Linked DNA regions of Homo sapiens. The protein of the gene in region 5 interacts with the protein of the main gene of each other region in a pairwise test. Each region holds a gene or a part of one and is shown on either strand. Other genes may lie near its edges.

Evidence for each region.
Region 1: the proteins of SH3GLB1 (region 5) and SMIM5 interact in binary tests that used the Homo sapiens proteins (3 or more experiments, as listed by UniProt).
Region 2: the proteins of SH3GLB1 (region 5) and SNX4 interact in binary tests that used the Homo sapiens proteins (3 or more experiments, as listed by UniProt).
Region 3: the proteins of SH3GLB1 (region 5) and PITPNA interact in binary tests that used the Homo sapiens proteins (3 or more experiments, as listed by UniProt).
Region 4: the proteins of SH3GLB1 (region 5) and DNAJC1 interact in binary tests that used the Homo sapiens proteins (3 or more experiments, as listed by UniProt).
Region 6: the proteins of SH3GLB1 (region 5) and POLA2 interact in binary tests that used the Homo sapiens proteins (3 or more experiments, as listed by UniProt).
Region 7: the proteins of SH3GLB1 (region 5) and ALKBH3 interact in binary tests that used the Homo sapiens proteins (3 or more experiments, as listed by UniProt).

What each region holds. Positions count from the first base shown.
Region 1 is NC_000017.11:75,631,997-75,636,233, reverse strand, and holds the start of SMIM5 (small integral membrane protein 5), read right to left. Parts: upstream 2,801-4,237; 5' UTR 2,776-2,800; coding exon of another isoform or gene 2,296-2,775; 5' UTR 2,201-2,295; coding exon of another isoform or gene 2,032-2,200; exon of another isoform or gene 1-2,031.
Region 2 is NC_000003.12:125,447,203-125,450,702, forward strand, and holds part of SNX4 (sorting nexin-4), read right to left. Parts: intron 625-3,500; coding exon 577-624; 3' UTR 1-576. UniProt on the Homo sapiens protein: Involved in the regulation of endocytosis and in several stages of intracellular trafficking. Plays a role in recycling endocytosed transferrin receptor and prevent its degradation.
Region 3 is NC_000017.11:1,559,993-1,564,151, forward strand, and holds the start of PITPNA (phosphatidylinositol transfer protein alpha isoform), read right to left. Parts: upstream 2,801-4,159; 5' UTR 2,569-2,800; coding exon 2,549-2,568; intron 1,906-2,548; exon of another isoform or gene 1,207-1,905; intron 1-1,206. UniProt on the Homo sapiens protein: Catalyzes the transfer of phosphatidylinositol (PI) and phosphatidylcholine (PC) between membranes. Shows a preference for PI and PC containing shorter saturated or monosaturated acyl chains at the sn-1 and sn-2 positions.
Region 4 is NC_000010.11:21,916,731-21,920,230, forward strand, and holds part of DNAJC1 (dnaJ homolog subfamily C member 1 precursor), read right to left. Parts: intron 3,200-3,500; coding exon 3,102-3,199; intron 2,143-3,101; coding exon 2,049-2,142; intron 1-2,048. UniProt on the Homo sapiens protein: May modulate protein synthesis.
Region 5 is NC_000001.11:86,718,076-86,721,575, reverse strand, and holds part of SH3GLB1 (endophilin-B1), read right to left. Parts: intron 2,070-3,500; coding exon 1,941-2,069; intron 1-1,940. UniProt on the Homo sapiens protein: May be required for normal outer mitochondrial membrane dynamics. Required for coatomer-mediated retrograde transport in certain cells. May recruit other proteins to membranes with high curvature. May promote membrane fusion.
Region 6 is NC_000011.10:65,260,831-65,264,761, reverse strand, and holds the start of POLA2 (DNA polymerase alpha subunit B), read right to left. Parts: upstream 2,801-3,931; 5' UTR 2,470-2,800; coding exon 2,391-2,469; intron 1-2,390. UniProt on the Homo sapiens protein: Accessory subunit of the DNA polymerase alpha complex (also known as the alpha DNA polymerase-primase complex) which plays an essential role in the initiation of DNA synthesis.
Region 7 is NC_000011.10:43,911,831-43,915,330, reverse strand, and holds part of ALKBH3 (alpha-ketoglutarate-dependent dioxygenase alkB homolog 3), read right to left. Parts: intron 3,069-3,500; exon of another isoform or gene 2,847-3,068; intron 1-2,846. UniProt on the Homo sapiens protein: Dioxygenase that mediates demethylation of DNA and RNA containing 1-methyladenosine (m1A). Repairs alkylated DNA containing 1-methyladenosine (m1A) and 3-methylcytosine (m3C) by oxidative demethylation. Has a strong preference for single-stranded DNA.

The DNA.
Region 1 (4,237 bases), on a different chromosome or scaffold from region 5:
GTAGTGCCTTGGTTGGAGGCTTCTCAGGGTCCTCAGGGGTTCCTGAGTGGCTGCCAGAGCAAGTGGTGGCTCCCTCTGGCCTTAAGAGGGAGTGTAGCCCAGCTGCCACCAGGCCCTCCTGCTGCCCAGGCTGCCCAGCCAGCCCTGCTTGGAGCCTTCAGAGGGTGTGCCCTGGCTGCAGTAGCGGTCAGCACAGGGGAAACACTCAGGGCAGAGAAGGCTGGCAGAGCCGGAGGGATGGGAAGCATTCCTTTATGTGGCATCTCCTGGCACACGGAGCCTTGCAACAGGCAGGCATCCCGCAGGCCAGACAGCTGCCACTTGGTCCCGAAGCTTCCCTGTTTCCTCCTCGCAGAGCTGATACTCCAACCCCAGGCGCCTCACGAGGAAGGGCTGGCAGCAGGCGGCGTGTTTGAGACTGATAAGCGAGGTGTGTTGGCAGCGCGGGGCCCCAGAGGGCTGCTTGCTCTGCCCTGTTGTTTCGTCATGGTGGGTTTTAGTCACCCTTGCCCTGTTGGGCATTATCTCGTTTGAGGTCCACCTAGAAGGAGGCATAACTGACACTTGTGGGAGATTTGCAGGGTCCTGTGCCTGAGCAGCCGGGGGGGATGCCCCTATTTGTGGCACTGAGCCTTTGGGTGACTCCCCTTTTTGCCCTGGCTCCAACTGGAAGTAGAAAGTGGTGCTTGAACCCCTGGCAGGCCCTGCTCCTGTAGCCACCCAGGGCGGGAGGAAGCGCTTTCTGCTGCTGGTGTTAGAAACAGTAGGCGCTCTTTCTGCAGCTACAGAAGCTGGCTGTTCATTCACCCTCCGTCCTGGTTCAGGGACTGTGTTGGAGAGACCCTGTCCACTCGTGTCCTGTGGATGCAGGACAGGGATCCCCACCTGCCTGCCTGGGGCGTCTTGTGAGTGACAGCCACTGGGGTCTCCAGGCTCACCGCTGTGCCCCGACCCCGACCTGGCCTGACTCTTCCCTACTGTGCGCCTCCCAACACCGCAGGAGCTTGTCTCCCCAGACACCAGCCCCAGCCGAAGCCCCCAGCCTCTGCTGAGCTGAGAACACTTGGGCTAGTCCTTGGTTTCCACATTTCCCTGGGTCATTGTTTTTGTTTCTCACTAGATGCCAGCTTGTTTGCTTTGAGGAAAACATATGGGGGGTGGTGGCTTTAACGCTGGCTTGAGGACAGGGCGGCAGGAGGAGTAGGCAGCCTCGGCTCACGGGCCCTGCCCAGGAGGGCTGCTCTCAGTGTTCCCCAAAGAACCAAACAGCCGGGTCCTGCTTCCTTAGGGGTGGTGTCATGTCAGCCTGTGCATCACGGTGGCACAGCAGAGGTCCCGGTTGCCAGCGTGGTCCCTCCCAGCCTCACTTCTGTGACCTTCTGCCCACCTGAGCCTGAGTTGAAAGTCAGTCCTCCAGGTTCCTGGTTTGGTGTTCAAGGCTCATCACCAGAGGGAGATCTAGGAGTTTATGGGGTTCTAGATGGGCCCAGGGAGGAGGACCCAGGCTGAGCCGTGAGCTGAGAACACCAGCAGTGAGTGGGCCAAGCCCCTGAAAGGACACAGATGGGCAGAGTCCTGCTGCATCCTGGGGGCGCCGCATGCTGGCTGGGCAGACCCTGCGCTGACCTCGACAGGGCTCTGCCCTAATCCTGGGAAAAAGGGAGGCTCAGCAGGCCGGCAGCCATTCTCTCCCAAGCTGGACAGCCAAATCCCTCTTTTAAGCCCCCTGAATAAAAGAGCTGAAATGAACTTGCAGAATAAGCAGGCCCTCGGGGCCCCTCTGCTGCACAGCAGGCGGAGCAGGAGGCGCTCTGAGCAGAGCCCCCAGCCCTCCCCTAGTGCAGGGTCCCAGCAGCAGGGAGAGTGCAGGTGTGTGCAGGAGGCTGGCTGACTTCCCTGCAGGGAAGCGACCCAGCATGTCCCCGAAGACCTCTCCGTGTTTATGGTAGACTGTGGCCCTTCACCCTGGGGGCAGGGGACCCTTGCTGCTCCCTCCCTGTCCCCCCTTCTTCTGTGGCCATTGCCACTCACCTGGGAGCTCAGGTGTTGGGGGCTGAGCAGCAGTGCCCCAGCGCGGAGCCTCCACGTGCTGTCCTCGTACTTCCTTCGTGGGCGCCGCTGCTCCCCTGGGCGCCTCAGCCCAGCTCCTCTGCTGACAGCCAGCTGCTGTCTCTGCCTGGCTTTTTTGTTGTTGGTCGTCCTGGAGATCCAAGTGTCAAATTACCGTCGCGAGGGGGAGCCCGAGGAAGCCCTGCTTGGGAACTTGTCCTCCAACTTCATGTCCCGGTGCCTCACCTCTGCCCTGAGAGCGCTGCTCAGGGACAAGACAAGCTCCCTCTCTCCTCCTCCTTCCTCCTCCTCTCCCTCTCCCCGACTCCCACGCCGTGGGCTGGGCCTGGGTTGGGAGCTGAAGAAAGAAGTCGGCTCTCTGCCTTCCTGGCCAGGAGGACCCTGGGGAGGCTCCACCTGAGCCTGTGGAGGGGAGTCCTGCAGCGCTCTCAGGTCTGGGGCACCCACCCTGCCCTCAGGAAGGCCACCCCTTCTGTCCCTCTGGCCACTCCCTGGCTGGTCCCTCCCTCTGGCCTCTCTCAGGAACAACAGTAAACAGTGGGGAGCTGGTGGCCCTCTCAAGCTGAGCAGGAGGCTTTGCAACCAGTCCCTGGGGAGGCCCTTGTGCCGCTCAGCATCTGAAGGCGTCTTGGGGGAGAACTTGGAATCCTGAGTGACCTGGGAGTGGCCTGCGCGCCCGGCAAGGCGCCTCATGTTCCTTGTGAGGTGAGGGCCTTCTGCTGGGGCTGTGACCGCACTCCTGGCCCAGCTGTCAGGGCAGGGCTCCAGAGTCCAGGGGCCGGGCCCTGTGACATTTGCCTGGTTGTGCCTCCCAGCAGGCTAGGCTGTGTGGAGAGAAACCGACCCCAGCCCCGCTGTCAATGGAGCTCTTTGAGTCCGAGCACAAAACCCCAGTGAGTCAGGGCCTGAGGAGGGCAGGGGGAGGAAGCCAGCCATGTGGTCACACCACTCGGATGCCAGAGCCTCCCAGAGGCTGGACAGGCGGCCGCTGTGCGGGCGCACGGACTCCTGGGGATGAACCATTTGTTGCATTTACTCATTGGAGCAGAGTGGGGGCAGGAGCGCCCTCTGGTGGCCGCCTCGGCTGTCCCAGCCCAGGTCAGGCTTCAGAGCTGCATTCACTCAGCTAAAAGAAAGTCAGCCAGGCCCTGCTTCCTTACCGGGGTGTTGCAATCAGCCTTGCATCCTTGAGCCTGCGCCTTGGGGTCGCAGCCCCTCAAAGGGCTTCTTGCAGCCGCAGCAGTGCTCACACTGGGAGGAGTTCTAGTTAGAGCAGTTAATGCCAGCTATTCTTGTCCCTGGGATGTGGCACCCCAGACAGCCCTGCCTGTGTTCCAGCATCTCCTCTTGGGCTTCCCTACCCTGTGCCACGTTCCTGGTGGCAGGAATGGCTGTTTATAAGGAGCCTGAGAGAGCTATGGCCCCTCTTGCGGCCTCTGCAGCTGCCCCAAGGGTCGACAGCCACCCCCATGCAGAGGGAACAGAGATGCGACAGAGCCTCGTGGGCCAGCCAGAGGCTGCTCCCTGCTCCCAGCATGGGCAGAGGCCGCTCACCCCAGGAGGGCTGCAGCAGGGTTGAGACAGAGGAAGACGAGAGGAGGACTCCAGGCGAGGCTGCGTCTCCCTGGCTAAAGGCCCCACCTGTGACACCCTCACGGGTTGATGATGGGACATATTACTACACAGCCGTGCCTGCCTTAGCAATGCAAATACGTTTTGAGAAATTTAACTTGTCATTGTGCGGTCACAGAGTATACTTAGGGAAATCAAACAGCAATTCCAGGGAAGAGAAGGAAAAAAATATCAAGCGGCACAGCCTCCTACACACCCAGGCCATGCGCTACAGCTTGTTGCTCCTAGACCACAAACCTGTACATCACGTTACTGTCCTGAGTACCGTATGCAGTTGTAACACAGTGGTATTCACATATCTAAGCACACATAAGCATAGAAAAAGTACAGTAGAAATACAGTGTTAGAATCGTAGGGGACCACCATTGGCTGTGCAGTCATTCCATGGGGCATGACTGTACTGTAATGCACTTCAGACATCACCTCAGCCATCTTCGCTCAGTCCGTGAGGGCTGTGCCTTTCTGCACCATCTTACTGACGGGAATGCATGGGCTTTAGGAGGTGAAGTGTGTCACCCAAAAGACACCCTTCATG
Region 2 (3,500 bases), on a different chromosome or scaffold from region 5:
AATTCTGGTAAAACACAAATTGAAGGCATTTTCTAGTGTATGCAAACATTACAAGGGGCATCAATGAATGTAGAAGAAAATCGTAGATTTTTCACATCAAGTTTCTGCTGAGCTTTGTCAAACCAAATAGCTCAACTATAAGGCAAGAGAAAACAACTCCCTATAACAGATTAGTGGATCTTACCAAGTAAATATAGGAATTCAATCTTAGGGAAAAATTCCCTACATTAATAGATCTGAAACAGCTGGTCTTGAAACAAACATCTAGAAATTAACGAACATCTTGACATTCAGTCATTGGTTCAGAAGCGTGACAAACAATCTGTTGGTATATATTATTAAATTAACTTTTTGGAATCAGCACCAGTCCCCAAAACCTCAAATTATAATATTTAATCTTCATTAAAATATATTTTTTGTGCTACATTAACACGACCACAATTAAGTTAAAGAAAGCTGAATTTATTTAACTTATTGTATATGTTTATGTATACTAGGTAGTGACTTAAATTTCTTTTATTTACTTGTGCTTCTGTTTTGGGGCACTTTGATTGAAGAGAAATTCAATTCACAGGATTACATCTTGCTAAAGCATTCCTTAGCATTGGTCCAAACTTGAATTCCCTAAAAATAAAAATAAAAACTTTAAAATGTGAGTTTGGAAGGAATCTGAAAACCCAAGTACTTGGCTTAGTGGTACACTAAGTTTTGCTTTTTGGAATAATTAAGAAGTCGAGAAAATATGACACTATTTTGGGAAGTGGCTAATATAAGCAAATGTCTAATGCTTCTGAAAAGAGAAACAGAATCTCTAATACGAACTTATCTTCAAAATGGAAAAAGAACTCCTACAACTTGTTGGAAAACTGAGTTAATTCATTTCATATCACATACTCGAGTAATTTCTATTTGTAAATCAAACAAGTTTTCAGTCTTTTTTTTTTTTTGGAGATAGGGTCTCACTCTGTTACCCAGGCTGGAGTATAATCATGGCTCATTGCAGCCTTGACCTCCAGGGCTCAAGGGATCCTCCCACCTCAGCCTGCCAAGTAGCTGGGATCACAAGTGCACGCCACCACACCTGGCTTATTTTTTGTATTTTTTTTTTTTTTTGTAGAAATGGAATCTCACTATGTTACCCAGGCTGGTCTGGAATTCCTGGGCTCAAGCGACCTGCTTGCCTCTGCCTCCCAAAGTGCTGGCATCACAGGTGTGAGCCACAGTGCCCGGCTCGGTTTTTTCAATGTAATATTTGAAACAAAAAACTTCATTAGTCTAACAAATATAAATTGAGTTATTAAATTATCACTCTAATAACTAAAGTTTTGATAAAAACTAATTATGTACTAAATTACTGAATCCCTCTTAGTACCTGAAGTTACTTAGCACAGTTATAGATGGCCTAATATGCATAAGCAAAAATACATGTTTATAGAGATGTAACAGTAAAACTTAAGGGTTTTTTCCTTTTTTTTTTTTTTTTTTTTTTTTGAGACAGAGTCTTGCTCTGTCGCCCAGGCTGGAGTGCAGTGGCGCGATCTCGGCTCACTGCAAGCTCCACCTCCCGGGTTCACACCATTCTACCACCTCAGCCTCCCAAGTAGCTGGGACTACAGGCGCCTGCCACCATGCCCAGCTAATTTTTTGTATTTTTAGTAGAGATGAGATTTCACCGTGTGTTAGGCAGGATGGTGTCGATCTCCTGACCTCGTGATCCACCTGCCTTGGCCTCCCAAAATGCTGGGATTACAGGAGTGAGCCACTGTACCCGGCAAGGGTTTTTTTCAGTAAGGTATTTTTTCAATAAGATACATATTCTCCAATAATTACTCATTTATGAGAAAGGAACTTTTTAATACTTAATCATTAAAGTGTGTCATTTATTAAGGTTTTGAACAATTTTCTTTTTCTTCTCTTTTCTTTTTGAAAGAAGGTCTCGGGCCAGGTGCGGTGGCTCACACCCGTAATCCCAGCACTTTGGGAGGTGGAGGCAGGCGGATCATGAGATCAGGAGTTTGAGACCAGCCTGGCCAACATGGTGAAACCGTCTCTCCTAAAGATACAAAAAAATTAGTCAGGCATGGTGACACACACCTGTAATCCCATCTACTCGGCTGGATGAGGTAGAATTGCTTGAACACGGGAGGCGGAGGTTGTAGTGAGCTGAGATCATGCCATTGCACTCCAGCCTGGGTGACAGGGTGAGACTCTGTCTCAAAAAAAAAAAAAAGAAAGAAAGAAAGAAAGAAGGTCTCACTATGTTGCCCAGCCTAGTCTTGAACTCCTGGGATCAAGTGATCCTCCTGCCTCAACCTCCCAAATAGCTAGGATCACATATAAAAATCTATATCACTTAGGCAAGAAAACAAAACGACAAAATTGCATAGTACCATTCTTGGGAAACAAGGTGAACATAAACTCTTATTAAACTTTTTGTTTTACTAGTTATCTAAGGATTTGTGAATAAACCTACAAAATATCCAACAGTATGTCCAAATACAGCTATAGTAGTATCTTTTATATTCACAGATTAAATTTCTAGCACCCTCAACCACTGCAGCCTAAACAAAACGGAGGGGGAAAGTCCTTTGAGACATTATATAAAGGTCTTGCACTTTACTTTGGAAAGAAGTGAATGAGAGATCACAAGGAGCTTATTAATGAGTCTTTTACAGGAAAAACAAAAAAACTAAAAACCTTTGTTATCTGGTCTTTCAGATTTCTTGAGGTTAAAAAGTTAGATTGGAAAAAGGACTGTACTACTGGGTGTGGTGGCTCATGCCTATAATCCCAGCAATTTGGGAGGCCAGGGCGGGAGGACTGCTTGAGCCCAGGAGTTTAAGATCAGCCTGGGTGACACAGTAAGACCCCATTTCAACAAAAAAAGAAGAAAAAAGAAAAAGACAATGGATTGTAAATATCTAGCACCTAGCTGCAGGCAAGAAGAGGTGACAGAATGAAGGCAAAAAAAAGATAGAGATGCTACCAAACTACAACATACTCAACCTTTAGCACCTGCAGACTCAACAGTCACGATCTAAACTTGTTTTAAGTGACTCCAAAGATCCACGGTATACAGTAACTTATAATTCACTGAGCATAAATATGAATTTGTCCAAACCAAATGGAGCCCACTTAACCAGTGAGTGCGTATGGTGTTTATGCCTCAAAATATCTTTGTTCTCTCAGTGATGGCCCACAGCCAAAAAATAAAATTTTGGGACAAACTAAAGCATAAGAATTGTATATATATTTATATGAGTGTGATTTTGCCCTATAAATGTGAGAATTCATCTTACCATGTAATTTACTGAGATAATGCATGTAAAAGTGCTTGATAAATTATGACAGGTGATACAAATCAAAGCACTGGTACTGGTAGTCACACTGGCAGATCTTAGGTTATAAAAAAGAGGTTAAGGAATGTTTCCTATTTTGTTCTTAAACCAACGTTTTAGAAAGTCTTCCATCATTGTCAAACATTTATTTTAACTAGAATA
Region 3 (4,159 bases), on a different chromosome or scaffold from region 5:
ATAAGCCTTTTATCTTCAAGAACAGCAGTCAAAATCACATCCAAGATTTTGCAGAAATCAAATTAAACAGAATCCTGTTAGAGGAAGTGTTGGAAAAATCAACAGGGGCAACCTGCAGACGCTGGGTGGGAACCAAGTCTCACCCCAAAAGAGAATGCCATGGGCCAATTCCTGACGGGATGCGCTGAGGCTGCTGACGTGACGGCTGCACACTCTGACACTGCCCCCTTGCTCCTTAGGAACAAAACCACTTCGGCAGCAATAGGGTACAATTCCAAAGGACAGGGCCACAGAGGAACTGCCGGGCTGGGCCTGGAGCGGCACTCACTCTAATGTGACCTTCACTCGCACCCTTTCCAGGGCTGCAACGCTGCGGCCACAGCCAGTGTCTCGGATGCCCTGATGCCCCTGCTCCTCCCCCGTCCCCCGCCCAGGGATGCACACACGGGGCACGAGTCGGGCAGGAAGGAAACGCAGATACCAGGCAGGCCCTGCATCTCCGGCACCTTGGACTTTTCCCTTGCAGGCTTCAAGGGGAGGAGAACAAAGACAGGGAAGGAGTGCCTCTCTTCAAACCTCACTCAGATCTCCTCTGAAGGTCCCTTCCTTTCCCTGCCTGACCTTCATTTCAAAACCACAGATTTCTACAGATTCTAGGGTTCATTTGGGAACAGGAAAAAGAATCAGAAGGATGGGAAAAGCCTGTCAGTCTGGACACTGAAGATTAAAATCTAAAGTGCACCACGTTCTCCTGTTGGCATCGTAAAGTTCTTCCTCCTCACCAGGAAAAGCTCCGAGCCCTGGCTGAATTAACATCAGACTGGATGTCAAGAAACAGAGGGGATGAGGCCTCAAAATAATGCTCTTCAGATGAGGTGTTTAGCTGGGATGACATGTGGGTCTCAGCTCCCTCTGTTACCCAAACTCCACTCTATGTCCTAAATGTCCTAAGCACCTCCAAGGAGCCAGCCTGGTGGGGATGGTCAAAGTGCGATCGCTGACAAAGTGGCAAGAGCTCTCTGCACACCTGCCTGGCTGCCTCACAAGTTGCTCTCTGTTTGACCATCTCCCACTCCTGGGGCTTCTGGCCCTCCCTCCAGGAAAGCAGTTTCACTGTAAATTCTGTGCACACACGCACACGCACACACACACACACACCCATCCTATCTCTCCTCTTTGGGGAGAAAAATGTCCTGTGATGCTTACTTGGAACCCTGAGCTTCAACGATGGCTCATCTTGTACTTGAAAGATTTAGCACACCAAACATCTCCACCTGTCCCCCAGTCCCCTGGATTTCAGGAGCAAACCCGTCATCCTGCAACTCCTTCCAGAAGTCACCAGTTTCCCACGCACCCCTCTTCACTACTCAAGAGCTCCCCACCCCTTCCACCATCTCTCCTCAGTTCACGGCTCCATGGACCCCTCAATTCCTCAAAGAATTTCCCCATCTCTTTGCACCAAGACTGAGAATCCCCTAGAAACAAGCTGGCCCTGCCCTGGTCTCCCCCATCTCCAACGGCAGGTATACTCATCCCAACATACTCTCTTTCCGGACCAGCCTCGACCCCGGTAACTTCCCGGCCTTCTCCACTTCGGACCCTACCCAACATTTTCTGGCCTCCTCGCCCAAGTCTCCCCACGTCCCAAGCAGTCATCCCAAGCTTGTTCCAAAAGCCTCCTCTTCCGCACCAGCTGCTTGGGCACCACGGTTACTCCGGCCCGCATCTCAGCCCCCTCTGCATGTCCTCAGACCCTTCACCTGTCTCCCCAGCCAGGCCCTGACTTCCTAGTCCTCCTCCTGTGTCCACTTACCACCACCCCTCACCCGATGCCTAAGGCGGCCACTCCTCCCCATCCCCATCCCAACTCCATCGCGGAGCCTCTGACCCATCCACCCGGCTCTCCGTGTGAACTGTTCGGCCCTCCACCTTTCCCCACCGCCGGGAGGCCCTGCCTGCCCCGGTGCGCCTCTTCCTCGGCCGCCGCGGGGCCTCTCAGCGCCGCCTGCAGTCCCGGCTGAGCCCGCGCCCTCGGCCCGCGCAGAGCGACCCCACAGCACTCCCAGCGCTCGGCGTCCCCTCGGCCTCCCCCAGTCCCGGGCCAGCTCTCCCTGCCCTGACCCCGTCTCGGGCCTGGCCTCGCCCTCGCTGTCCCCGGCCTCTCCTCGGGTCCACTTGGGCCTCCGAGGCCCCCGGGGCGCCTGAGGAGCCGTCCGCCCGGGTTGTCCCTCCGTGCCCGTGGGCCCCTCCATGCCCCGGCTGCCCGTCCATGCCCCGTGGGCCCCGGCTCAGATGCCGAACGCCCCGGCTGCCCCTCCACGCCCCGGCCGCCCCTCCACGCCCCGGCCGCCCCTCCGTGCCCCGTGGGCCCCGCCTCACGTGCCGCCCGCCCCGGATCCCCTCCATCCCCGCTGGGCCCGCCTCAGGCACCCTCCGTCCCTGCTGCCCCTCCGTCCATCCGGGCCCTGCGTCCCTCGCCGCGCCGTCGCCCCGGCGGCCGTCCCCACCCTCCCTCCTCCCCGCTTCCGCACGGCCGCCGGACACTCACTACTCCTTGAGCAGCACCATGTCGCTTCGCGGCTCGGTGGCTGCCCGCGGCCCGCCCGGCCTCCCGCCCGCTGCCCGCCGGCCGCTCTCCCCGTGGCCCGGCCCGGCCCGGCTGCCTGTGCGTCTTCGTCGTGCTCTGCTCCGTCCCCGCCGCCCTCGCCGCGGTCGCCGCGCCGGCTCCTGCCGCCCGGGCCTCGTCGCCTCTCGCGCCGCTGCCGACGCCGCCCGGAGCTCCGGTTCCGCAGCGCCGCGCGGGGGCGGGGCGTCTCTGCGGCAACCAGAGCGTCACACGCCGCGGTGCGCGCTGACGTCACGCGGGGCCGAGCCTTCCCAGGCCCGCCCTCCCGTCCTTAAGTGGGCCGCGGCGGCGCTGTCGGTTCCGAGGTGGGGCCCCGCGGCTGGGGCCAGACCCGGCAGAAGGCGGAGCAGACTAGGGTGTCCGTCACCGTCCTCGGTGTGAACCGCCACGGATGCACGCGGGTGCTGGCTGGGGGGCCTCCCCGGTTGAGGGAATTGAGACCCAGGAAAAGGTTGTTTCAAAAAATATTAATAGCCGCGCGCGGTGGCCCACGCCTGTAATCCTTGCACCTTGGGAGGCCGAGGCGGGCGGATCACCTGAGGTCAGGAGTTCGAGACCAGCCTGGCCAACATGATGAAACCCCGTCTCTACTAAAAATACAAAAATTAGCTGGGCGTGGAGGCACGCACCTGTAATCCCAGCTACACGGGAGGCTGAGGCGGGAGAATCGCTTGTACCGGGAGGCAGAGTTTGCAGTGAGCCGAGATCGCGATCGCGCCATTGCACTCCAGCCTGGGGGACAAGAGTGAAACTTCGTCTCAAAAAAAAAAAAAAGAAAAGAAAAGGGCTGTGAGGCCGGGCGCGGTGGCTCCTGGCAGTAATCCCAGGCACATCATGCCTGTAATGCAGCACTCAGGCGGGCGCATCACCTGAGGTCAGGAGTTCCAGACCAGATGGCGAAACCCCATCTCTACTAAAAGTACAAAAATTAGCCGGGCGTGGTGGTGGACGTGGTGGTGGTAGTCCCAGCTGCTCGGGAGGATGAGGCAGGAGAATCGCTTGAACCCTGGAGGCGGAGGTTGCAGTGAGCCGAGATCGCACCATTGCACTCCAGCTGGGGCGACAGAGCGAGACTCTGCATCAAAAAAAAAAAAAAAAAAAAGAATGAAAAGGGCTGTGAGAAATGAGACACAGGCTTAGCGGCATTACACGGAGGGGCACCTAATTGAGCGTCAGGGATGTAGTCAGGGAAGGCTTCCTGGAGGAAGAGATTCTCAGATCTGCAGAGGGCTTCGGAGAAGAGCATAGCAGGCAGAGTGAATGCAAAGGCTGGAGGCAAGAGGGAGAGCATGGTGCATTTGGAGAACTGACAAGTGAGTGGAACAGAACATTTCAGGGCTGAGCAGCTCAATAGGGGAGGGTTCCTGGTGAACGATGATAAGGTATTTGGAGTCCACCCTAAGGGCGGTGGGAGGGCATGTAAGGGCTCTGAGCAGTGACATGAGCGGGTGTCCTGGGCGAAGGCTCACTCTAGTGGTTGGGTGGACAGAGGGGATGGAATGCCAGAGCGTAGGCAGGGAGACCGGCGAGGAG
Region 4 (3,500 bases), on a different chromosome or scaffold from region 5:
ACTACAAAACAAAAAGCGACAAAAATCTAATCCTGAGAGCAACTGAACAGTATTGTTTTGCTAATGTATTTCATAAGCAATCAATCTAAAGTACTTTCTAAAGTATTATAATATATATTTGAAAGAGTCTACTGCATTACATTATTTTGTTAGTGACCACTAGAAACACTAATCTAAGGTCCCCACAGCAGAATAAAAATATCAAATATTTCCTTTAAAAAGGAAAATCATCTTAATTTTCTTCTTGAAATCCATTTATCAAGAAGAAATAATTAGAATAAAATTTAAAAATTAGATTTAAAAGGTCTTGGAACCCTAATGCCTAGCATCTCAAAACCGAAAGGCCAGCAGATACCATCAAGTAAGTAAAAACTTTAAAATTCAAAGTGATCAGTTAAAAAAAGCAGAGTTTCTAAAGAAACTAAAAAGTTTCTGTAAAATTCCTCATTTTTGTATATTTTCTACAAATTTATGATGAGGCAAAACAATCAATCTATTACATGAATTAACAGCTATCACAGGCAAGTATTTTAAAGTAAATTATAAATCTAAGCCATAACAATATGTTGGTTCTAGTCTGGCAAATTACCCTGCATGCTAAACAAGAAATATGTTAATTTTACCAAATAAATTTTATTTCAAATTAGATTAAAATTACAAAGAAGTGTTTAATATTGATATCTTATGTAATATTCTATTTATACTGCCTCATGAATATACTTTTTAACTCATCTATATTCTGGTTTGCCTATTGCACGGATTCTAAAGTTGGCAAAAAATAATCAGACTTCAAAAAATAAGAAAATCTGCCCTAAAAATATTTTCTGCCTCATTTTCTCATAAACATACCAGTGTGATAAAGACTTTCCCTCCCTCATTAAGTCTTACAGACAGCATACAAACATTGCAGAGTATTTTTTCAAGCAAACAATATAACACACTAAACAACTTAAAAACAAACCTTTTAAATTACCAAAATACTGTAATTTTTCTCTATTAACTGTAAACAAAATATAAGATTCTATAAGCAATAACTATTAAGATGAACTATTTTGATGGAAGAACTGGTAATTTCTCAAAGGATAAAAAGAAGCACACTAGTATTTTGGTTCAATATCCCCTTTAAATATAAAATTTTCATTATGAGAAAAATAAAGGAAAATGCAGAAGTTGTAGTCATTAGCTTCCTTAAAAAATCAGGAAAAATAGCTCTAATATATAACTACAAAGTGGGTAGAACTGAATTAGAATATTATCTGGTCCTCTAGATTATAAACACTTATTTTCTAAAATAAAACATTTCTCTCCAAAAAATTACAATCTCAACCTCAAAATCTGTACACCAAAAAGTGTTTTATTTACTTTCAAATATTTATGTGTTGGGGATTTTCAAACCTGATGCAAAAATCAAAATTAACAAAGCAATAATTTAATAAAATATGCTTTGGTATACTAAATGTAAAAAAATAAAAGAAACTGACATCTAAATATGATACATATCCACATTTTATTATTTAATCAAGACTAAATAGAAACAGAAACTCATTACCTGTATAAGACAAAATGTCCTCACTCCTCTTAAATTTGCAAATAAAATGGAAAGCAATATATATTTTGGTACAATTATACAGATGTTCATGTAAAGTTTTTTTTTTTTTTTTTTAACACTATGTACTTAAATGCTATTAAAATAATGGGTGGCAAGCTACTTGAATACTGTTCCTTTTTACTGGTTATGCTTTTAATGATAACAGTGGATTAAATTTTTATTGCTTTTATCTCTGTACTAAAGATAGTATGTTTTTTTCTTTTTCTAGCATCTTGGGACTCTAAGGTGATCTAAAACCATTATAAAAGATAATTACAGAAACATATCTAAATTATCTTAGAATTATCTAAATTAGGTTTAACTTATAAAAATCCTACTCAATCAACATTATAAAGCATCCACTGCATATCAGCATTCAGAGAGCCGACATGGGCATAAATTATTTCATGAGTGATTAAAAATAAAAGATCTAATGTTATATAAAAGAGGTACATTTTACCTGGATGAGGTGAGGTAATGCTTTTAGTGTAAGGCAAAACCAAATCCCCAGTTTGCATGGAAGCAAATCATGCCACTGTGGTTTCATCAGCAATCTAAAGGGAGGGAGAAAAAAGAACACCATACAACATATGAGGAATATACAGAGAAAGTTGGGAGGCAAAATAATTCTATAAAGATCATGAATTCTTTTGTGAATGGCTACTTCAACAAAAAAAATGAAGAAAGTATGCACTGAAATATTTATAACTGACTTACTCCATCATGAAATACAGTAGTCACAACAAATGCAATATATATAGCATGTAAGAGAATCTAGGCTAAGATTTTGGGGAAGGAGGCTCCTAATCAAGTTACAAAGATAAACAAAAGCCTTCTTTCTAACCTGGGCTTTTCATCACTTTTGTACAACGAATTCTTAAGCCTTATGATTACTTCAGCTATAAAAAACTAACCATCATCAGAGTGTTCCCAAGTGCTGACAACCAGATATGAAGACTGTAGCATAAACAAACCAATACATAAAAATTAATGTCATTTGCAGTTCACTGAAGCATTACTCACTGATGTCATCAGAATAGATGACAGGCAGAATAGTCTCTGATCTCCATCCCACATTGATCCCAGTTCATGCCCTGCTGTGTGAACTATTTAAACCCTTTATTCCTTTCTATGAATCAATAGAAGAAATGGTGGTATCTTTTTGAGTGTACTGCATATCACTGCCTCTCTACATACTGTCACTCCTGAGCTAAGTGATAGGTCCGTCTAATAGTACTTTGTTTCTAAAGTTCAGTATAAAAATTTCAAACTAGAAGAATTTGAGGGATTATTTAAATATATAGTCACACTTTATATGGGGGAAAAAACCTGAAGACATTTTGCTTAAGATTAGAACTTGTCTCATAAACAATGGCACATTATTAGTCTTTTATAAGACTACCACAGATATAAATGAGAGCACATGTAAATAGACATACATATGAAGTTGAATCATATTAAAGATGTATTTTAAAACAGCTTCAAATTATAAAGTATTTTTATATGCTCTCACCTTTCATTTTTTTCTGAAGCACCGAGTTTTGATACATCCACACTCTTGCTGCCAGTCTTTTTTTTCTTTTCTCTCTTTTTTCTACTTAGTAGTTCATCCTTAATGTGGAAAGAATTATGGTTACAGGTTATCATTAACATGTACACTTCAAATGTTATCTAGGCTCTTCTGTGAAGGGTAAACATTATAGAGGAACATTTATGCAAATGTATGTAGGGTCCAACATGATTAAGTAAAATCATCAATCTTTCACAATAACTGTTGCCATGGTATCCAGGCCTTAAACACACATGAAGTTCAGGACTGTCAGTCATGTGCATCTCCATAGCAATCAAAGTTTTCTAAGAAGAGAAAGCATTCAACTCACTTTTTCTCATTCATCCAACTTTAATAATGTCA
Region 5 (3,500 bases):
GTAGAAAGAAAGGAAGCCCCAAGATCAGGGTTCCACTCCTAGTTTTACTTCTAATAAGCTTTAGCTCTAAGGATCTTAATCCCTTCATGTTAGGATAAGCTTTGATCTGACTGATAAGGAAGGTAATACAGATAGTAGTTAAGAGCTCCGTCACTGGATACAGACAGATCTTCATTTGAATTACTATACTAGCTGTGACTGTGGATTAATTATTTAACTTCTCCAAACCTGTTTCCTTGTCTTTAAAATGAAGGTAATATAATTTATCTTAAAAGCAGGATATAAATGAGAATTAATATGTAAATATATATACTATATAATGCTTAGCCCATGCCTGTGATACTCAATTTTTAGTATTAATTACTAATAAGGTAATAGGTTCACAAAGCCCAATTCTAATAACCAGGGTACATTCACTAGAATTACTAGAGGTGCAAACAGATTAAGCAGATTTAAAAGGGAAGAAAATCTAGAAGCCTTTACTAATGTTCATGCTCTGCTAAAACCTTCTTCAGCCTGGTGAAGGAAGGGGCTGCTGGGTTCCTTTCACATACCTTTATGATCCCAGCATCTAACTGAGCTTGGCACAAGTAGGCAATAAAACATCTGTTTAATGTATAACATTTTTCTAAAAATTAACAGTAAAATTCAGAAATAATTTTATTTTGAAGTTCTAAGCATTTTCAAACTTAAAAATTAGATTTTGAAGAACACAATGTAGAAGTTTCAAAGTTGTGTACCTAAAAAAGCCTGTCAATGGATTAGTGGCATTCAACAATATTTAGGTTATTTCTTTCTGACATAAAGATAACTACTAAAGCTTAAAATTCATTTAATCCTAGAATTTATAAACCATTCTGTAAATCAGAACTATGTGTAGAAATTAATTTAATCTACCTACCATTTCATATCCAAAGACCAGTATCTTGCAGATGTATAAAGAGAATTATTATTAGACATAAACAACAGGAAAAGAAGCTACTGAAATCTGTAACAGTCTCATGTTATGAGAAAATTAGAGTGACAATAAAGATGTGTATGTAACTTTGAGCTTCAGGGCTATACATTTAAAGTCTGTACAGCAACTAATAAAGCGAGTGTAACTAAACCACGGCTATAGAAAATTTGAAATACATAAGAGAAAAACAGAAATGAAATGTAATCCAAATATCCAGAGATAACAATTGTTAATATTTTTTGGTTACTGACATTACTGCAAAATTATAACAAAAGCACTGATTTGTTCAAGAACTACGTGCCAAGTACCTTTAACATAAAATAAGCCCTAAGAAAGCTTTTTTAAAAATGAAGAGACATATGCAAACAATAATTGCAATATCACAAGTATTATAACATAGGTATTGTAAGATCACTGGGAGAACAAGTGAAGAATTCATTAAACTTTTTAGAACTAAAAAAGATGTGAATTCTCTGAATAACTAAATATATGCTTGAATATATTAAATATTACATTTAACTGTATATATTTGCCTATATTTCTCACTTCATCAAAAATTTTTAACATAAATTTGAAGTTAAAACCAATTCTACTACTATGTTTTTTTTTTTTTTTTTTTTTTGAGACAGAGTCTCGTTCTGTGGCCCAGGCTGGAGTGCAGTGGTGTGATCTTGGCTCACTGCAAGCTCCACGTCCAAGGTTCACGCCATTCTCCTGCCTCAGCCTCCCAAGTAGCTGGGACTACAGGTGTCTGCCACCACACCCAGCTAATTTTTTGTTATTTTTAGTAGAGACGGGGTTTCACCATGTTAGCCAGGATAGTCTCGATCTCCTGACCTCATGATCCGCCCACCTCAACCACCCAAAGTGCTGGGATTACAGGTGTGAGCCACTGCACCCGGCCTACTAATATGTTAATGACATCTCTAATAAATCTAAACATAAAGATATCCCTTATTAGAACTTTTTGCATTTCACTTACCATAAGCTGTTCCTGGGCCAAACTCAGTCCCTGCATCAATCATATATTGTCCCAAAAGTTCTGGGTTGTTTATACGACTTGGAGCTTTTCTATCCAGTTTCTCATAAACAAATTCTTCTATCCTGGCATCTAGGAGAAAGGTTAAAATTACCAATGATTTCTAAAAAGCAAAACTAATTAGAAGATTGTTTTTTTCCCCCATCAGCAGCCATTTATCATCTCCTAAAGTTAGCATTCATTCAAGCACATATCTTAATAAATAATTTTTTAAATTTTATGTTAGACTATTATATAACTAAAAAATTATATTTTAGAAATTTGATAAAATATCTTGGCACAAAAGCATTTTAAAATAAAATAAAATTATTATTTGAGTATTCTACAAGATTTTAAGTTCCAGAAAAGGACTGATTAATTCACTTAATATTTATTGAAGGTGTCTTTGCCCTGTTTGTAGCATTTTAACTCTAATTTTTACTCTGAATGTACATTCATAATTTCAAAATCAGGATTTCTGGCTAGGAAAATACAGATATAAAGTACCTGGAAGAACCAAAGACTTACATCTGACAGCTTTAGCATGAGCATTTGCTCTCTCTTTTTCTTGCCTAGAGTCTAAATATAGACACAGGCGCTTAAGGCATAGAACAATCCAGGCTTGGAATAGTCTACAGACAGATCAGCAATATGATGCCTTGGCTTTAGTTTATGTTTAAAGTATACAAGTATATCTCTGAGCATGCATTCACTCAAAAGATTTCATCATTAAAAATAAGTTTAAAATACGAAAGGTTAAAGCAATAATAGAACATTAGAATAAATGGAAAGGGGAAAAAAACAAAAGCTGAATAAACACTTGGTTAGCAAAATGCTTAAGACCAAAGATATTAACATTTACAATGCTGTCCAACCTAGAGGTATTTCAGGACAAGTGAAAAAATGGCTTAAGTTTCCAGAAACAACGATTAAGCATAAATTGAAGCTAAGTCAAATAGGTTCCCTCTAAGTACCTCACATAGATTCCTACGCATGCGGAAGTTTCACACAGTGCACTGAAAATTTAAAAAATGAGCTGAACCAGTAACAGAAACATTTCAGGAGTTGGTAAAAGGCTTAGTTATAATACATAAAATAGAGTATAGCAATGATACTTGCTTTTGTGGTAGATTCTAGTACAAAATCAGAAGTTTTAAAGCAGAAATTAAATACCTTTAAATAGTTAAAACCAAAAAGAGCTTTTTAAAACATAACCATTTAGAAGATACTAGTTAAATTTCAGAACTTCATTTTGGCCCGGTGTGGTGGTACATGCCTGTAATCCCAGCACTTTGGGAGGCCAAGGCAGGTAGACCACTTGATGTCAGGAGTTTGAGACCAGCCTGGCTGACATGGTGAAACCCCGTCTCTACTAAAAAAAAAAATACAAAAATTAGCTAGGTGTGGTAGCGCATGCCTGTAATCCCAACTACTCGGGAAGCTGAGGCAGGACAATCACTTGAACCCAGGAGGCAGATCTTGCAGTAAGCAGAGATTGTGCCACTGCACTCCAGCCCAGGTGAA
Region 6 (3,931 bases), on a different chromosome or scaffold from region 5:
GAATGGGGTTTAGGACTCAAGTGGAGGACTTGGATTTTGCTAGGAATACGGAAAGCTTATTCATTATAATAGGAAAGAAGGCTAGGTATATGCCACAGATATGGGTCAGTGAGACATAATGGTGGTAGCTGATCGAAGTTTTCTAATGCTTCTACATTTTTCAGCAAATAATAGAAATTTGTCAGCTGAGAGTGAGGGTGGGACAGAAGGATGTTACAGGAGAAGGTGGAAAACAATCATCTGGAAGACTCAGAGTAAAGAGACCAGGGGCCTGGCGCAGTGTAATCCCAGCACTTTGGGAGGCCAGGGTGGGCGGATCACCTGAGGTCAGGAGTTGAAGACCAGCCTGGCCAACATGGTGAAACCTTGTCTCTACTGAAAATACAAAAAGTAGAACAGGTGTGGTGGCTCACACCTATAATCCCAGCACTTTGGGAGGCCGAGGTGGGAGGATCACTGGAGGTCAGGGGTTCGAGATCAGCCTGCCCAACATGGCGAAACCCCATCTCTACTAAAAATACAAAAAATTAGCCGGGCGTGGTGGCGGGAGCCTGTAATCCCAGCTACTCGGGAGGCTGAGGCAGGAGAACCGCTTGAACTCGGGAGGCAGAGGTTGCAGTGAGCCAAGATTGCACCATTGCACTCCAGCCTGGGCAATGAGAAACTCCATCTCAAAAAACAAAACAAACAACAACAAAAAAAACAGGGAAATACGGTTGACTGTCAGGAAACATTAAGGTGCCACTGAAGTTACTGATGATCCAAAGTCCACAATTCCAAAGCCATTGCCATGAGATGAAAGCAACTGGCATCTTGGCCTGAAGCCTTTACAAATCTGGTTCACATAACTAATTTCTCTCATGCTGATTTCATGCTTACCACATACATTTCTGACTATGATCAGGTTTTCCACTTAAGTCTTTTTTTTTTTTTTGAGACAGAGTCTCGCTCCTGTTGCCCAGGCTAGAGTGCAATGGTGTGATCTCGGCTCACCACAACCTCTGCCTCTCATGTTCAAGCGATTCTTCCGCCTCAGCCTCCTGAGTAGCTGGGATTACAGGCATGCGCCACCACGCCCGACTAATTTTGTATTTTTAGTAGAGACAGGGTTTCTCCATGTTGGTCAGGCTGGTCTCAAATTCTCGACTTCAGATTATCCACCTGCCTTGGCCTCCCAAAATGCTGGGATTACAGGCGTGAGCCACCACACCTGGCTAGTCTTCTTTTAAAAAGAGAAGGACCGAGCCTGCTGGCTTATGCCTGTAATCCCAGCACTTTGGAAGGCCAAGGTGGGTGGATCACTTGAGGTCAGGAGTTCGAGAGCAGTCTGGCCTACATGGTGAAACCCCTTCTCTACTAAAAGTACAAAAAAAAATTAGTCGGGCCTGGTGGCGGGCGCCTGTAATCCCAGCTACTTGGGAGGCTGAGGCAGGAGAATCGCTTGAACCTGGGAGGCGGAGGCTGAAGTGAGCCGAGATTGCACCACTGCACTCCAGCCTGGGTGATAAAACAAGACTGTCAAAAAAAAAAAAAAAAAAAAAGAGAGAGAGAGAAGGCACTGGGCATGAAGACTTGAAGTATTCTGGTTTCTGAAAGGAATTTCTCACCATAAATTAACGTTTCGTTATCTTTTTGTATATAAGAAGTTCAAAGTGTTGAGTGGTTAAGGCAGGTGCACATTCATACCGATTCTAGAACTTCCACATCTCCCAGGCTTTGCTTCAAATGACTCCTTACACTGCTCTACAGCTTGACCAACACGATGGACCCGTATGATGCAGCACGGGACTCCAAGGCAGGACACCTGGCTTCACAGACAGCTCAGGCAATTAGCTTTCCTTGTCTGTTTCTCCATCTGTAAAGCTCCCTAAAGCTCCTTCCACAGCTCAAATTCAATTTTAGGAACCTACCTCAAGGGATTCATATTTGCACAGACCACCAACAGCTATGATAAAATAACTGATGGATCAGCAGAGGTTTAAGGTGTAGGCTGGAAAGGGAGGAGCCAAGAATAAAAAGCTACATTTCAAAACCCCCACATCTGTTGCTTTGTTACCGGGGCTTCAACAATTTCCAAACTCAGGTGCCACCAGTGCCTAGTCTCTATCTAGCACATCCCAATTCCGCCTTTCGGGAACTTCGAGTTGGTTTAAAATCGTGCTGCATATTCCTATTTTTGATTTGGCATCCAAGCGGTACCCGGTGGGCATTTCAAAGTCCCCACATCCTAAATCTCAAAACTCAAGTTTGATTCTTCATCTCACAGCCACCGAGAACTCTGCTCCAGGGGAAGTGGAAATTGGAAGCGCTCCACTTTCGGTTCTAGGCGCCGAGGAACTCGGGCGAGAGCGTGGAGCACGGCTGCAGGGCGGGAGGGGTGCGGGACTCACATTTCTCAATTAGAGCCTCCTCGCAGTCTAGGCCGAAGATCTGCAGCTCCTCCGCCAGCTGCTGGGCGGATGCGGACATGGTCGCCCAAGCCAGGGGCCGGGGAGCCGGCCCACCCAGCTCCGACCTGCGCCCAAGAAGCCCACGGGGGTGGCGAGCGATGAGCTCCTCGCCCTCTTATCCTTCCCCCCTCCGCGGACCGTGACAGGAGGTGACTGGCCCAAGCAAGACCTCAGACCGTCAGAAGGCCCCGGCCGTCGGTCACAGAGAAATACTTTTTTTAAAAAATGAAGGGGTGGCTCCCAAACGCCCTGAATGGAGGGAGCAGAAATCTCGAGAGGACGCTCTCCTGGTGAGAACGTCCTGCTTCCCAAAAGCTACCGCTGAGCTTCTCAGTGACGGTGGCAGAACTGAGTGGCCGGAAAAACCCGCCAAATGGTTTGTGCAGTGCACGCATGCGCGAAACCGGGAGCCAACCCCAAACCTTCCCCTTGCTTTCCCCGGCTCATTCCGGAACCCCACGCGCGCACGCGCGGCCCAGGGCGCGTGCGCATCAGCGGGCGTGTGGGCGTCTCTACGCACGCGCCTGGCGGCCCGCCAGTCAGCAGCTGCGCAGTTCTCTCTCACGGCGCGAGAATGCCGGTTGTGACTCGCAACGCCCGGGAGTTGCCTACAAGGAAACTGAGTCTGTGTGCGGATGCCTGTTTTCTGGGCATCGGCTGCTCGATAAAACTCAGTGGCGCATGTTTGTCACCCTTTTGCCCTGTTCCGTGGTGCGCAGGCGTTGTCGTGCGCGTGCCTTCGACTATCTAAAACTTACTGTACCCCCTTCTCCATTCCCCTTGTCATCTCTGCCTGTTGTGCCCTTGGTTCATCCTAAAAGAATGGCTTCAGTAGGGAATCTGGTTGCCATGGTTATTATCGTGCTTATCACCGTGGTGCCAGCCACAGTGATGGGTATGTTTTCTGAATCTGGGGCATTTGGGGGGATATGAGGTGGGAAGGTGACGGATAATTTAGTTTTGGACACGTTAAGTTTGAGTGCCTCTGGGATTTCCAGGTAGAGATTCCCAGTGGGTGACTGGAGGCTTGGGAGTGAAGGTAGGTCACTCAAGGATAGAGTTTAGGGGTAAGATGAGAAGAGGGTTCTCCCCTTGAAATACACCGTAATTCTTTGAGCCAAAAATCTCAACCGTAGGCGTCATACAATGCTGGTGGGATGGTATAGAGCGTTTCGAGAAAACAATTTAGCAATATGTATCAGGAACCTTTAAAATGTCCATCCCAGGCCAGGTGCGGTCACTCACGCCTGTAATCCCAGCATTTGGGAGGCCGAGGCAGGCGGATCACTTTGTAGCAGGACGAGCCACAGACAAAACTCCTCAGACACCCGAGTTAAAGAAGGAAGGGGTTTATTCGGCTGGGGTCATCGGCAAGACTCCTGTCTCACCAGCCGAGCTCCCCGAATGAGCAATTCCTGTCCCTTTTAAGGGCTCACAACTCTAAGGGGGTGCGCCTGAGAGGGTCGTGATCAATTGAACAA
Region 7 (3,500 bases), on a different chromosome or scaffold from region 5:
CTTCTGGCTGAACATTATCAACTGACAGTAACGAAAAACAATTAGGGGAGAAATGACAACTCATTCAAACTTAGAGATCTTGGATTACAAGCCAAGTTCTTTTTTTTTTTTTTTTCTTTTTTTGAGACAGAGTCTCACTCTGTCACCCAGGCTGGAGTGCAGTGGTGTGATCTCGGCTCACTGCAACCTCCACCTCCTGGGTTCAAGCGATTCTTGTGCCTCAGCCTCCCGAGTAGCTGGGATTACAGGTGCCTGCCACCATGCCTGGCTAATTTTTTTTTATTTTTAGTAGAGATAGGGTTTCACCATGTTGGCCAGGCTGGTCTTGAACTCCTGGGCTCAAGTGATCCACCTGCCTTGGCCTCCCAAAGTGCTGGGATTACAGGTGTGAGCCACCACACCCAGCCCAAGTTCAACTTTTTTTTTTTCATTCTGTTTGCTGTTTGTGTTTCTTCTGCTGTGAACACTCTCTGTTCATGTCCTTTGTCCATTGTTCTATGGGGGTGTTAACACTGTTTTCTTATTGATCTACAACCACAGATATTAAGGCATTTGTTTGTCATACTTTTTGCAAATGCTTTTCTCATTTGCTATTTGCCTTTTAACTGTACTTATGGTATTTAACATGGAATAGCTCAAAAATTTTAGAGTCAACTCTACTGACCTTTCTTTGGCTCGTCTTCATGATTTTTATGCTTAGAAAGTCTTTTCCCATCCTGAGGAAAGTTAAATATACAACTGTATTTCCTTTTAGTTTTTTTTTTAAGAGTTTACATTTTTTAGATTTAACTCTTTAATCTACATGGAGTTTGTTTTTTGGTGGTGGTTGGGTTATTCTTTTTTTTCCATGCTTCTTTTTATAACAGTTTCCAGGTACTTAAACCAAAGCATCCTGCCAGACTTCTTCCACAAGATCTACGATGGCATGTGCTCAGGTGCCAGGCACATCAGGCACTCTATATCCGTTATTGCTAATCCTCACTACAACCTTGTAAGGGAGGCAAGGAAGGTGATATTATCCATTTTATCATAAGCAAAGGGAGCTGGAGGGAAAATATTTCTCTAAGGCAAAAGCTAGCAGGAGGGCAGGCTAGCATTTGAATGTAGATTGGCCCGGCTCTAAAGCCCTATTCTTTCCACTATACTCTGCTCTCCAAGGTAAGCTCTATTCCTTCTGAAATCCTAATATTTCCTGTCCTGATTATATGGCACCCTGACTATACTGTAGGGGTCACAAACACCAGCAAGTAGCATAAGTGAGAGGTGTGGGCTGGGTGCAGCACAGGGAGGAGAGGGACCCATGCAGAACCAGGGGCCTGCAGAAAGGTGGTGGCTGCTCTGCCAATGAGCCATTTCAGATCACTGTTCCCCCAGTGCTGCCCCCTCTTCTGGGTTTTCCAGGGAAGCTGACAAGTGGGATTTTTATGTGAAATTTCCTGAGTTATAAATTTTCGCAATTAATTCAGTGTCTTTAAAAACACTGGGCAATTTAAACAAGTCTGAGGGCCAGATTCAGCTCCAGGGTTGCCCAGCTATGCTGCTGATAGGTCCATGACATGACTGCCTTCTTTGATTCCCTTGTCAGTCACCTTAGCAGACTTGTAAGCGTCTAAGACCGTTGTCATCTGATGTGCTTCTTGCATCCCCTTTGCCATTCCATGCAGTAGTGCCTGAGAGATGCTCAGGACACAAGTGCTACTTCATCTTCAAATATCATCTTCCTTTACTGAATTAAATCTAGAGGTAGAAACTGTGGGGAAATATCAAATACACGTACAATTGCTTTTAGTTAGCAACTGATTGTAGCATAGGCTCCTCCAAGGTTTCAAGCAATGGACAGAGTTTTAAATTATAGTGGATTTGTTTAATTTATTATTTGATAGTAATCTGAATAAATCTTAGAGGCCATTATCACTTAAATAATAGTATATCTAGGTCTTTCAAATTAAAATTATACCTGAATAATGGAGGGTGGAGGACGGGACGGGGGTGAGGACGGAAAAACTACCTATCGGGTACTATGCTTATTAGCCGGGTGATGAAATAATCTGTATACCAAACCCCCGTGACAGACAAGTTACCTATATAACAAACCTGCAAATATACCTAACCTAAAACAAAAATTAAAAAAAAATTAGACCTGAATGAAGCTGTCTGTACACATGAAGTATATTTGTGTACCATGACCAAGTTTGTCGCCTGTACTTGTTTTTTTTTTTTTTTTAACAACTGGAAATTATTTACTGTATCTCATTTATGTCTGTCTATCATAAAGAATTGATCAATATGTAAATATGTGATTTGAACCATGGTTGACTTTTTGAACCATGGTTGACTTATGAGTGTTGCTACAACATTTTAGAAAACATAGCCTGTTCCATGTATTAACCAAGGCCCAGGAGAGCCAGTAGGCTTGTGCTTTGTGTAGAGCTGGGAGAGGCCATCCATCCTGTCTCTCAGTGGACAATGTACTTTCCTGATAAGGAAGGGAAGCACAATGGAAATACACCTCAACTGTTTTATTGCAGTAATTTTTTTTGTATCTGAAACTGTATTGTTTAATATATTAAGATTTTAAAAAATAAATGCCATGATTTTAAAAAATTATCACATTCTTCATCTCACCCCTAACTCAATCAGAAAAAGTCATTCAAAGCAAAATATGCTTCCAAATTACTGATCTCAGATAACAGTGAGGCAGTTGGTTTTCCACATCATCTCTGATTCCTTAGATGAGCAAAATAGAAAAACCTCCATCTCTGTACTAAGAAGACACTTATAAAAACAAAACACAAATGAGCAGAAAGGACAAGGTAGAAGCCTGCTACCTGTTTCTTGTTTTACAGGTTCACAGGAAGCACCTGGCACACAGTAACTATTATTAATTTCTGCACTGGAGGCATCAGGAAAGCCTTCACGCTATAGGGGGCCCTTTTAAGTTAAGAAGTTGGAGAGCAAGCCTCGGGGAAAGCAAAGAGATAACTTAGTAGAATGGAGCAACCATACGGGAACAGTGAGAGTCCATGGATCTCCCTGGGCTAAGATCATGTATGGATTTGGCAATCTGGGTAAGGAGTTTCTATTTTATCCTTTGTTCCAACAGAAGCAAATTAAGATTTTTCAGGTGGAAAACAAAGTGATGAAAGCAGTGAGCTCAACCTTTGAGGCTCTATGCTCCCTTCTTGTTTTTTGTTTGTTTGTTTGTTTTGAGAAGGAGTCTCACTCTGTGGCCCAGGCTGGAGTGCAGTGGTGCGATCTCGACTCACTGCAACCTCTGCCTCCCAGGTTCAAGCGATTCTTCTGCCTCAGCCTCCTAAGTAGCTGGCATTACAGGCGCGCACCACCACGCCTGCCTATTTTTTTTGTATTTTTAGTAGAGACGGGGTTTCACCATGTTGGTCAGGCTGGTCTCGAACTCCCGACCTTGTGATCCGCCCACCTCAGCCTCCCAAAGTGCTGGGATTACAGGCATGAGCCACGGCGCCTGGCCGCTCCCTTTT